Regions from separate parts of the Homo sapiens genome. Here region 2 is linked to region 1. Evidence: fine-mapped expression QTL. A gene starts in region 1. The other region holds a variant in brackets. All regions are shown on one strand. Distances are between the middles of the regions. Region 1 holds the start of GPN3 (GPN-loop GTPase 3). Region 2 has its middle 16 kb from the start of ANAPC7.

Evidence for each region. PIP is the estimated chance that this variant, and not a neighbour inherited with it, causes the effect.
Region 2: its variant is the best candidate, but not a certain one, in a credible set for the expression of GPN3 in monocytes after LPS (Fairfax 2014, PIP 0.78).

The regions. Positions count from the first base shown.
Region 1 is chr12:110,465,942-110,471,314 of GRCh38, forward strand. GPN3 (GPN-loop GTPase 3) reads right to left here and starts at 2,316. Exons shown (of 8, transcript NM_016301.4): 1 at 2,215-2,316. The coding sequence starts at 2,262. It overlaps FAM216A (family with sequence similarity 216 member A), which reads left to right and starts at 2,904. Exons shown (of 7, transcript NM_013300.3): 1 at 2,904-3,077. The coding sequence starts at 2,935. It overlaps LOC124903016 (a long non-coding RNA gene), which reads right to left. Exons shown (of 3, transcript XR_007063459.1): 2 at 4,698-4,875; 3 at 4,348-4,510. RefSeq lists enhancers at 2,428-2,557, 3,478-3,647 and a silencer at 2,968-3,277.
Region 2 is chr12:110,416,708-110,422,080 of GRCh38, forward strand. No RefSeq gene overlaps it. Among named protein-coding and RNA genes, the nearest start is that of ANAPC7, 16 kb to the left of the region's middle. The variant A/G (reference allele first, on the strand shown) is at 3,182.

The DNA of each region.
Region 1 (5,373 bases):
TGGCGTATGCCTGTAATCTCAGATACTCAGGAGGCTGAGGCAGGAGAATCGCTTGAACCCGGGAGGCAGAGGTCGCAGTGAGCTGAGATCACACCACTGCACTCTAGCCTGGATGACAGAACAAGACTCCTGGCTCAAAAAAAAAAAAAAGTCTCTAGGCTACTTGTCTGTGTCATACTCTGTTTAAAGGCAGAGATGTGTCTTATTCAGTTTCCCAAGCACAGGGACTAGCGCAATACCTAGTACATAATAAATACTTGATAATTGTTTCTAATTGACTTATTATGTTTAAAGATAAGCTCCACAAGGGCACGGATTTTGTGTGTGCATGTTTTTTTCCCCATACAACCCCCAGGGCCCAAAACAGTGCCTGGGATAAAGAACGTACTCAAGGAATGTTTCTGATAGTAAGCATCAAAAGCTTATAAAGATACTTGTTTAATACAATCAGCCCAAAAATTAAAATAGACTATAGAAAAAACATCCATCATGCTGTCCTCTCAGTGCCTTTACACATACTGTTGTCTCTGTCTGGAATGCCCTCTCCATACATCACACACTGTATCTTTTTTTTTTTTGCAAAGGGTCTCACTGTCACCCAGGCTGGAGTGCAGTGGCACCATCATAGCTCACTGCAGCTTTGACCCAGGCTCAAGCGATTCTCCAGCCTTAGCCCCCCGAGTAGGTGGGACTATAGGCTCTCGCCACCATGCCCAGCTAATTTTTGTATTTTTGGTAGAGACAGGGCTTCACCATGGTGCCCAGGCTGACCCTGAACTCCTGGGCTCAAGTGATCTGCTGGCCTCAGCCTCCCAAAGTGCGAGGATTACAGGCTTAAGCCACCACACCTGGCCACATCACACTGTATCTTAATTGACAGGTCATCTATTTGTCTTCCCCAAAAGACTACAGACTCTGGGTAAGTTAAAGGCCATAGGTATCTTAGTTACATGTACATGTTTTTACCCAGAATAAGTCAACAGCTTAGAACAATGTGTTTGTTAAAGACTGAGGCCACACAACACCTCCACAGACTCTAGTGTTTCCACACTTCTTCTTTTTTTTTTTTGCGACAGTACCTCTGTCACCCAGGCTGGAGTGCAGTGGCACGATCACCACTCACCACAGCCTCAACCTCCTGGGTTCAGGTAATCCTCCCACTTCAGCTTCCCGAGAAGCTGGGACTAGAGGTACCTGCCACCAGGCCTGGCTAATTTTTGCATTTTTTTGTAGAGACAGAGTTTCGCCGTGTTGCCAAGGCTGGTCCCAAACTCCTGGGCTCAGGCGATCCGTCCACCTCCATCTCCCAAAGTGATAGGATTACAGACGTGAGCCACCACGCCTGGCTATGTTTCCCACACATATGTTATTTGATCCATATCTTCACCATTCTCACTGTATTTGAATGTTCCTAACATTCCCTTAATATTTGTTTACAAGAAAAAATTTTATCCCTACTGTAAACTGAAAACCACTTATATTTGACATAACGTGAAATTAGACATAAAATTATATAAAATCTTTAAATGTTCTATTTTTAGCTAAATACAGGTGCCTATTAAAAGCTCTGAGACTAAGAACTGCTCTCTGAAAAGACCTGGGGATTAAAGAAGTGCTGAAGATACACACTAGCACCGAGCACAACTTCTCCTAAATGCGAAGTTGAGAACTGAAAGAGAAATGAAAAGGGAACAATTTCCCTAACACATTATCTGATGCTCCTTAATGTGGGGTCCATGTACCACCTACCACCTAAAAGCACCTTAAATACCAAAAGTCCATGTCCCAAGTTCTGAGAAACAGTAATTAATGAGACCCCACTTTACCCTCCTGGGAGCGAGACAGGGCCGGATTCTGGAGTTGAGACAAAACTGGATTTATATTTTTTTGCGGGGCAAAGAACTTAATTAACCTTTCTGTATCTCGTTTTCTGTAAAATGAGAAAAATGAGATCTCTCTCACAGGGTTGTTGTAGAAATAAGCGAGGCGTTTCATCTGCTGCCTGGGGCTTAAGTATACAATAAATATTAACAACTACCATTATTTCCCTTTCAAAACAACAACAAAAAAGAACGTGAAGCCAGACAGCAGAAATGAGTTGCGTGGGGTCTCAGGGTTCCCAGTACACACACCCGCCGGCTCACTCCCTCAGGACCCAATCTCCCGCCTTCCACGAACTCCTACTTTTCTCTCCTTGTCCCCGCAGATCCTCACCTTCCCGCTGCCCGCGGGGCCCATGACCAGCTGCGCATACCGAGGCATGTTGGCTCCCGGAGCCGCCCGCCACACTCCCTTAGCCTTCGCGCGACGCCCACTGAGCTCCGGGAAAGTGAAGTGCGAACCAATCGCAATCCACATTCTTTCTACGCCTCCAGTTCTACCACACCTCCTACTACGGGGCAGCCCGCGGGCCAAATCCCGTGAGAAACGCGTCCTGAGAAAAAAGGGGAGGGGCGAGGGAGAGGATTTGCGCGTGCGCAAAAGTAGTTGATGGAAATCGGCCGTTGGGATGCTGTCTAAGCTTGGATACCTGAGTAATAACGGACAACAGATAAAGCTCCGCATCCTTGCGCCACGTGCTTCGGTCCGTGGTTTGCGTGCAGACGTTTGACCTGTATGGTGACCCTCGCGATTTGCAAATGTGCTGAGGATCTGGAATACTGAAGTGGAAGGCACCTCTTGTTTTGGGGAGCATGTATATTTCCCTCCTGTGACGCACTGCTTCCACAGAGAGGTGCAAACGTGCAAACGCTCAGCGACCGCAGCGCTCCTGCCCCTCCCCCACCGTAACTCCGGGGTCGCGGATCTGCCCGCCCCGCTCTCCCGAAGCTGTTCGGGCAGTGTCCGAACGGCTTCGGAGGGGCGAGAAGCCAGCATCCGAGCCGCCTCTCCGGAATACCAGCAGCCTGACGCACGCGTGCTGTCGGGGGAGGGATGCTGGGACAGCTGCTCCCGCACACGGCTCGCGGTCTCGGCGCCGCGGAGATGCCCGGCCAGGGTCCGGGGTCCGACTGGACGGAGCGTAGCTCTTCTGCAGAGCCGCCCGCTGTGGCCGGGACCGAGGGTGGCGGCGGCGGGTGAGGTTGGGGGCCCCGGGGTAAGGGTGGCAGCATGGGGCCCCCGGGTCGTGAGGCCCCCGGGTCGTGAGCCCCGTGGAGGAGGGCTGCGGCCGACCTCTCGTCTCGGGGGCTGGCCCCGGTGCCCTCAAGTGAGAGGCGGGGAGCAGTTTTGTTGTGGACAGAGGGCAGAGGGGAGGACTGCCTCGCGGTTGAGGGAGGGTCTCTGAGGGAAGCTTCGGAGGAGCGTTTGGTGCAGTGGCCACGAGGTGACTGCGACAGTCGCCCGCGTGCATCTCTCTGCCCCGAGGGGGCGCTGCGAGCCCTGCTGGGACGTTTGCTGTCTGGCACAGGACTGTGTGTCCACCGAAAGGCGAGGCGGGAGGGACAGAGGAGGAAGATGTCCCCCGGTTCAACTGGGGGCATCCAGGCCCATAAACCAGTTCCTTCCCTCTAGTGACATGAGCCACCTTCCTGTCAAACGGGGATTTCTTTTTCTTTTTTTTTCTTTTCTTTCTTGTTTTTTGAGAGCGAGACAGTCTCGCTCTGTTGCCTAGGCTGGAATGCGGTGGTGCGATCTCAGCTCACTGCAACCTCAGCCTCCCAGGTTCAAGTGATTCTCCTGCCTCAGCCTCCCGAGTAGCTGGGATTACAGGCGCCTGCCACCACGCCCGGCTAATTTTTGTATTTTTAGTAGAGAGGTGGTTTCACCATGTTGGCTAGGCTTGTGTCGAACCCCTGACCTCAAGTGAGCCGCCCGCCTCGGCCTCCCAAATTGCTGGGATTACGGGGTGAACCATTGCGCCCGACCTCAAACGAGGATTTCTAATCGCCAATGAGACCAATGACTGAATATCCGAGGTGCCTTGATCTTGACATTTTCTTCACACTGAAGTTCCTTTTTTCACAAATCTATTTCGTTTTGAGCAGGTTTTTACACCTATTTCCTAGATAGTGAAGACAGCGAGCTGTTGAAGTCACTGCTGGAGACTCTACCTCCTCTTCCTCTCCCTACTTTATTCCCTAAAAGCAAGAACTGCGATATGTTTGCCGTTCAGTACAACCCGCAGTCAGGGCCCCTGTTGCACCCATGGCCATCCTTTTTGTTTTTTTTTTTTTGAGACAGAGTCTCGTTCTGTTGCCCAGGCTGGAGTGCAGTGGTGCCATCTCAGCTCACTGCAAGCTCCGCCTCCCGGGTTCACGCCATTCTCCTCCCTCAGCCTCTGGAGTAGCTGGGATTACAAGCGCCTGCCACCACGCCCGGCTACTTTTTTGTATTTTTAGTAGAGACGGGGCTTCACCGTGTTAGCCAGGATGGTCTCGATCTCCTGACCTCGTGATCCGCCCGCATGGCCGTCCTTTTTGTCTCTGGTGCTACTGAAGACTTCTTAAAGATGGGATGGAGTCTTGGGTTTCTTTTCTGTTCTTCACAGTCCTTGGCCGACTGCAGGATCCTGGTGTATCAGGAGATACGTGAATTTTTTTTTTTTTTTTTATTGAGACAGAGTCTCCCTCTGTCACCCAGGCTGGAGTGCAGTGTCACGATCTCAGCTAACTGCAACCTCCGCCTCCTGTGTTCAAGCAATTCTCCTGCCTCAGCCTCCCAAGTAGCTGGGACTACAGGTGTGCGCCACCACGTACCTGGCTAATTTTTGTATTTTTAGTAGAGATGGGCATGAGCCTGTAATCCTGGAAGGTTCTATTATGATCCCCACTTTATGGATGACAAAACAGGCACAAAGAGGTTGTTTGTCCTTTCCTTTTATCTCCGCCTGTCGTTCATCTCCATGCTTCCTTTAGTTTATCCAAACTCTTAAAACTACAATTAAAAAAAAAGACAGTATGCCCTTCAGTTTGGTTTAAGGAACCCCATTAAAAAACACAAACCAAGACTAATTTATGAAAAGCTTATATTCCCAGAAATACAAAATAAAATTTTCAAACTAGAATCAGGTTTATTATGCTACATGATACAATGTTGGCACTGGCAGGGGTCTTAAAAATCATCAATTCCGGTCATATTTACTAATCTGAAAGGGGAAGTGATCTGCCAAAAATCCCATTATTAACTAATGGGAACTCCGGAACTCCTTACTTTTTTTCTTCTTTTTTTTTGAGATGGAGTCTCGCTCTGTCACCCAGGCTGGAGTGCAGTGGTGTGATCTTGGCTCACTGCAACCTCCGCCTCCCAGGTTCAAGCGATTCTCCTGCCTCCTGAGTAGCTGGGACTACAGGCACGTGCCACTACGCCTGGCTAAGTTTTTGCATTTTTAGTAGAGAACGGGGTTTCACCATGTTAGCCAGGATGGTCTCGATT
Region 2 (5,373 bases), 49 kb before region 1:
CTTTGGGAGGCCGAGGCAGGCAGATCACTTGAGCTCAGGAGTTCAAGACCTGCCTAGGCAATATAGCAAGACCATGTCTGTACAAAAAAACACAAAAATTAGCCGGACATGGTGGTGCTCATCTATAGTCCCAGCTACCAGGGAGACTGAGGCAGGGGAATCACTTGAGCCCAGGAAGTGGAGGCTGCAGTGAGCTATGATCCCACCACTGCACTCCAGCCTGGGTGACAAAGAGAGACCCCGTCTCAAAAATAAATAAATAAATAAAACAAAAATCCCAAAACTCCAAATATGCCAAATCGATATATCAATTATTGAGTTAAAAAGCATTAGAGAGGCTGGGCACGGTGGCTCACGCCTGTAATTCAAGCACTTTGGGAAGCCGAAGCAGGCTGATCACTTGAGCCCAGGAGTTCAAGACCAGCCTGGCCAACATGGTAAAACCCTCTCTCTACTAAAAATACAAAAATTAGCTGGGCGTGGTGACGCATGCTACTCAGGAGACCGAGGCATGAGAATCACTTGAACCTGGGAGGTGGAGGTTGCAGTGAGCTGAGATTGTGTCACTGCACTCCAGTCTGGGTAACAGAGTGAGATTCTGTCACCAAAGAAAAAAAAAATAGAGGAAGTAAAGTTTCAGAAACAATGAGCTGACCACTGTTTTCCTGCATGTAACAAGTGATGAGGATTTATCTGGAAAAGGTACCCTCTCCATATAAGAGCAAGAAAATAGCCCTTATCTCCAGAGACTTAAAACTAAAGGCTACAATGGACCTCCATAAACATACTTAACAAAGTTACCTTTACTTTCACCAGTTTGGCACTCCCCCCATTTATCTCCTAGTGACTCCCCTGAAAAATTTACTGCCCCAGCCAGATTTTCTTTGTCCTGTCATTTCTTCTCAAGTATATTGCTCTTTGTCTAAAACATATAAAGCATCTTATTTGGCCACTTCTTCAGACTTCACTCTTTTTTTTGTGTAGACCCCCCCGTACACGTGAAACAAAGTTTGTACACTTTTCTCTTGTTAATCTGCCTGGTGTCAGTTCGTTTTCGATCCAGCTCAAAAACCCACTAAGAGTTAAAAGAGGGGCTGGAGGTGATCTCTGGGTCCCTTGCAGTGTAGCGGGCTAATTTAGGAATCAGACCGACGGGTTGAGGAGGATACTTACTATTTAATTATTTAGGTGCACCAACCCAGTCGGATTAACATCCAAAGGACTGAGCCCCTAACAAAGAGTCAAGTTACCTTTTAAGCATTTCATGGGGCAGGGGGAGATCTGTGCAGGGGGAAGCATATTACAGAAGTGAGAAACAAAGACAGTTATTCAGTTGAGACATGCATTACATCATTTCTTTTTTTTTTTTTTTTGAGACGGAGTCTCGCTCTGTCGCCCAGGCTGGAGTGCAGTGGCGGGATCTCGGCTCACTGCAAGCTCCGCCTCCGGGTTCACGCCATTCTCCTGCCTCAGCCTCCCAAGTAGCTGGGACTACAGGCGCCCGCCACTACGCCCGGCTAATTTTTTGTATTTTTAGTAGAGACGGGGTTTCACCGTTTTAGCCGGGATGGTCTCGATCTCCTGACCTTGTGATCCGCCCGCCTCGGCCTCCCAAAGTGCTGGGATTACAGGCGTGAGCCACCGCGCCCGGCCGCATTACATCATTTCTTACTTTTCAAGGAAAAACATGTTTTACGACTTGAGTTTATCTATCTACTTACCTTGCAGCCACACAGCTAGAGAAACAGAGTCTTCACAATGCCTGGGAAAGGGAGAGATAAGGCTCACTAGCCACAGACAGAAAAACAGGCAGTTAATTTTTAAAGGACTCCACCTTTTTCTCTTCCTCAGGGGGAATTGGGTTTTCTTACATACAACTGAGTTTTTGCTTACACATTCTTTAATTTCTTTTAATTCCTGTTCCAGAAGCACTATATAAATGTTTGCTATTATACTTTTTTCTTTTCTTTTCTTTTTTTTTTTTTTTTGAGACGGAGTCTCGCTCTGTTGCCCAGGCTGGAGTGCAGTGGTGTGATCTCATCTCACTGCAAGCTCCGCCTCCCGGGTTCATGCCATTCTCCTGCCTCAGCCTCCTGAGTAGCTGGGACTACAGGCGCCCACCACCATGCCTGGCTAATTTTTTGCATCTTATGGAGAAATAGCCATAGCATTTAGCAACATGAAAGTCACTGATGATGTCAACAAGAACATTTTCAGTGGCGCTTTGGTAAAGAGAAGGAGACAAATGTGAGACAATGCATATAGATAATTCTTTTATTTTGAGATGGAGTCTTGCTCTGTTGCCCATGCTAGAGTTCAACGGCATGATCTCGGCTCACTGCAACCTCTGCCTCCCAAGTTCAAGTGATTCTCCTGCCTCAGCCTCCCCAGTAGCTGGATTACAGGCATGCTCCACCATGCTCCTGCTAATTTTTGTGTATTTTAGTAGAGAAGGGGTTTTACCATGTTGGCCAGGCTAGTATTGAACACTTGACCTCAGGTAATCTGCCTGCCTTGGCCTCCCACAGTGCTGGGATTACAGGCATGAGCCACCTTGCCCAGCCAATAATTCTTTTTTTTTTTTTTGAGACGAGATCTCGCCCTTTCGCCCAGGCTGGAGTGCAGTGGCACGACCTTGGCTCACTGCAACCTCCACCTCCTGGGTTCAAGTGATTCTCCTGCCTCAGCCTCCCAAGTAGCTGGGATTACAGGCATGTGCCACCTGCCCGGCTGGCTAATTTTTGTATTTTTAGTAGAGACGGGGTTTCACCATGCTGGCCAGGCTGGTCTCGAACTCTTGACCTGGTGATCCGCCTGCCTCGGCCTCCCAAAGTGCTGGGATTACAGGCATGAGCCACTGTGCCCGGCCAATTATTTTGAGGAGTTTTGCTGCAGAGAAGTGGTTCTCAACTGGGGTGGAGGCAGGGTGGTGACTGTATTCCTAGGGGACATTGGGCAATGTCTGGAGACATCTGAGGTGGGGTGGGTGTTGCTTCTGGCATCGGGTAGATAGATACTAGGGATGCTGCTAAACATTCTTTAATGTATAGGACAGCCCCCCACGGCAAAGTGGAGGAGAAATTTACATTCATGCCAGGCATGGTGGCTCACACCTATAATCCCAGCTACTTGGGAAGCTGAGGCAGGAGAATCACTTGAACCCGGAGGTGGAGGTTTCGGT[A/G]AATCTAGATTACACCATGGCACTCCAGCCAGGGTGACAGAGGGAGATTCTGTCAAAAAGAAAAAAAAAATTTTTTTAATTCATATATTTAAGTAGCCAGTCCAAAATGTCAAAGTGTCAATGTGGAGAAGCCCTGTTGTAAAGCAAAGGAGGACATGGTTGGCAGCAGGTGGGTGAAAGAGAGGATTTTTGTTTTCTGATTGGAGAAATATCATTTTTATATACTGATGGGAATGAAGGAGAATGTATCACTGGCTAACTGGTAGAAGAAAGGTTGAGACTGGGCACAGTGGCTCAGGTCTGTAATCCCAGCACTTTGGGAGGCCAAGGTGGGTGGATCACTAGGTCAGGAGTTCAAGACCAGCCTGGCCAATATGGTGAAACTCCATCTCTACTAAAATTACAAAAATTAGTTGGGTGTGGTGGCGCATGCCTGTAGTCCCAGCTACTCGGGAGGCTGAAGCAGAAGAATCGCTTGAACCCGGGAGGCAGAGGTTGCAATGAGCTGAGATCGCACCACTGCACTCCAGCCTGGGTGGCAGAGTGAGACTCAGTCTCAAAAAAAAAAAAAAAAAAAAGAAAAGTTGATAATTCCTGCAAAGAAATAGAGCTAAAACACACCTGTGAAACTGATAAACTCACACAAAGAATGGATGAAGCAAAAATATTTATAGAGAAAAAATTAGAGGCAAAGGGGGACCTACCTCCTCTGGAAATTTTATTTATTTATTTATTTATTTATTTTTTATTTTTTATTTTTTTTGAGACAGGATCTCCCTCTGTTGCCCAGGCTTGAGTGCAGTGGCACAATCATACCTCACTGTAGCCTCAACTTCCCAGGCTTAAGTGGTCCCTCCACCTCAGCCTCCCAAGTAGCTGGGACTATAGGCATGCACCACCACACCAAGCTAATTTAAAAAATTGAGTGTGTGTGGAGATGGGGTCTTGCTATGTTGCCCAGGCTGGTCTTAAACTCCTGGGCTCAAGCTGTCCTCCTGCCTTGGCCTCACAAAGTGCTGGATTACAGGTGTGAGCCACTGTGCCCAATTTTTATTTATTTATTTAGAGTTGTGTCTCTCTCTGTCACCCAGGCTGGAGTGCAGTGGCGAAATCATAGCTCACTGCAGCCTTGACCTCCTGGGCTCAAGCAATCCTTCCACCTCTGCCTCCTGAGTACTTGGGACTACAGGTGTGTGGTACCATGCCCAGCTAATCTGGAAATTTCAAAATATTCATCTTGAAAATCAATTTATCAAAGAGAGGGTAGGTTCTACGGTTAGGTCCCATTAATATGATGTAATTCAGATCATACTGATTTTGTTTTGTTTTGTTTTGAGACAAGGTCTGGCTCTATCACCCAGGCTGGAGTGCAGTGGTGCAATCACAGCTCACTGCAACCTCTACCTTTCGGGCTCAAGAGATAATCCCACCTCAGCCTTCCAAGAAGCTGGGAGTACAGATACCTGCCACCACGCCTGGCTAATTTTTTTTGGTAGAGACAGGGGTTTTGCCATGTTGCCAGGCTGGTCTTGAACTGAGCTCAAGCTGAAACAGGAATTAAAATAAATCAAAAAATGTTTAAACAAAAACTCAGTTGTATATAAGAAAACCCAATTCCCCTTGAGGAAGAGAAAGAGCTGGAGTCCTTTAAAATTAACTGCCTGTCTTTCTGTGGCTAGTGAGCCTTATCTCTCCCTTTCCCAAGCATTGTGAAGACCCTGTTTCTCTAGCTGTGCAGCTACAAGGTCACTAGACAGATAATCTCAAGTTGTAAAACATGTTGTTCCTTAAAAAGTATGAAATAATGTAATGCATGTCTCAATTAAATAACTGTCTTTGTTTCTTGCTTCTGTAATATGCTTCCCCCTGCACAGATCTGCCCCTGCCCCACGAAATGCTTAAAAGGTAACTTGACTCTTTGTTCAGGGCCCAGTCCTTTGGATGTTAATCCGACTGGGTTGGTGCAGCTTAATAATTAAATAATTCCTCCTCAACCCCTCAGTCTCTCTAATTCCTTAATTATCCCGCAGCAAAGTGATCCACCCGCCTTGGCCTCCCAAAGTGCTGGGATTACACACATGACCCACCATGCTTGGCCAGATCATACTGATTTTAATAATATTCAAAGGACATGTATGGTGTTAAAACAACTTGGGACACACAGGAGATATATCCAAGGAGACTAGGCCTCC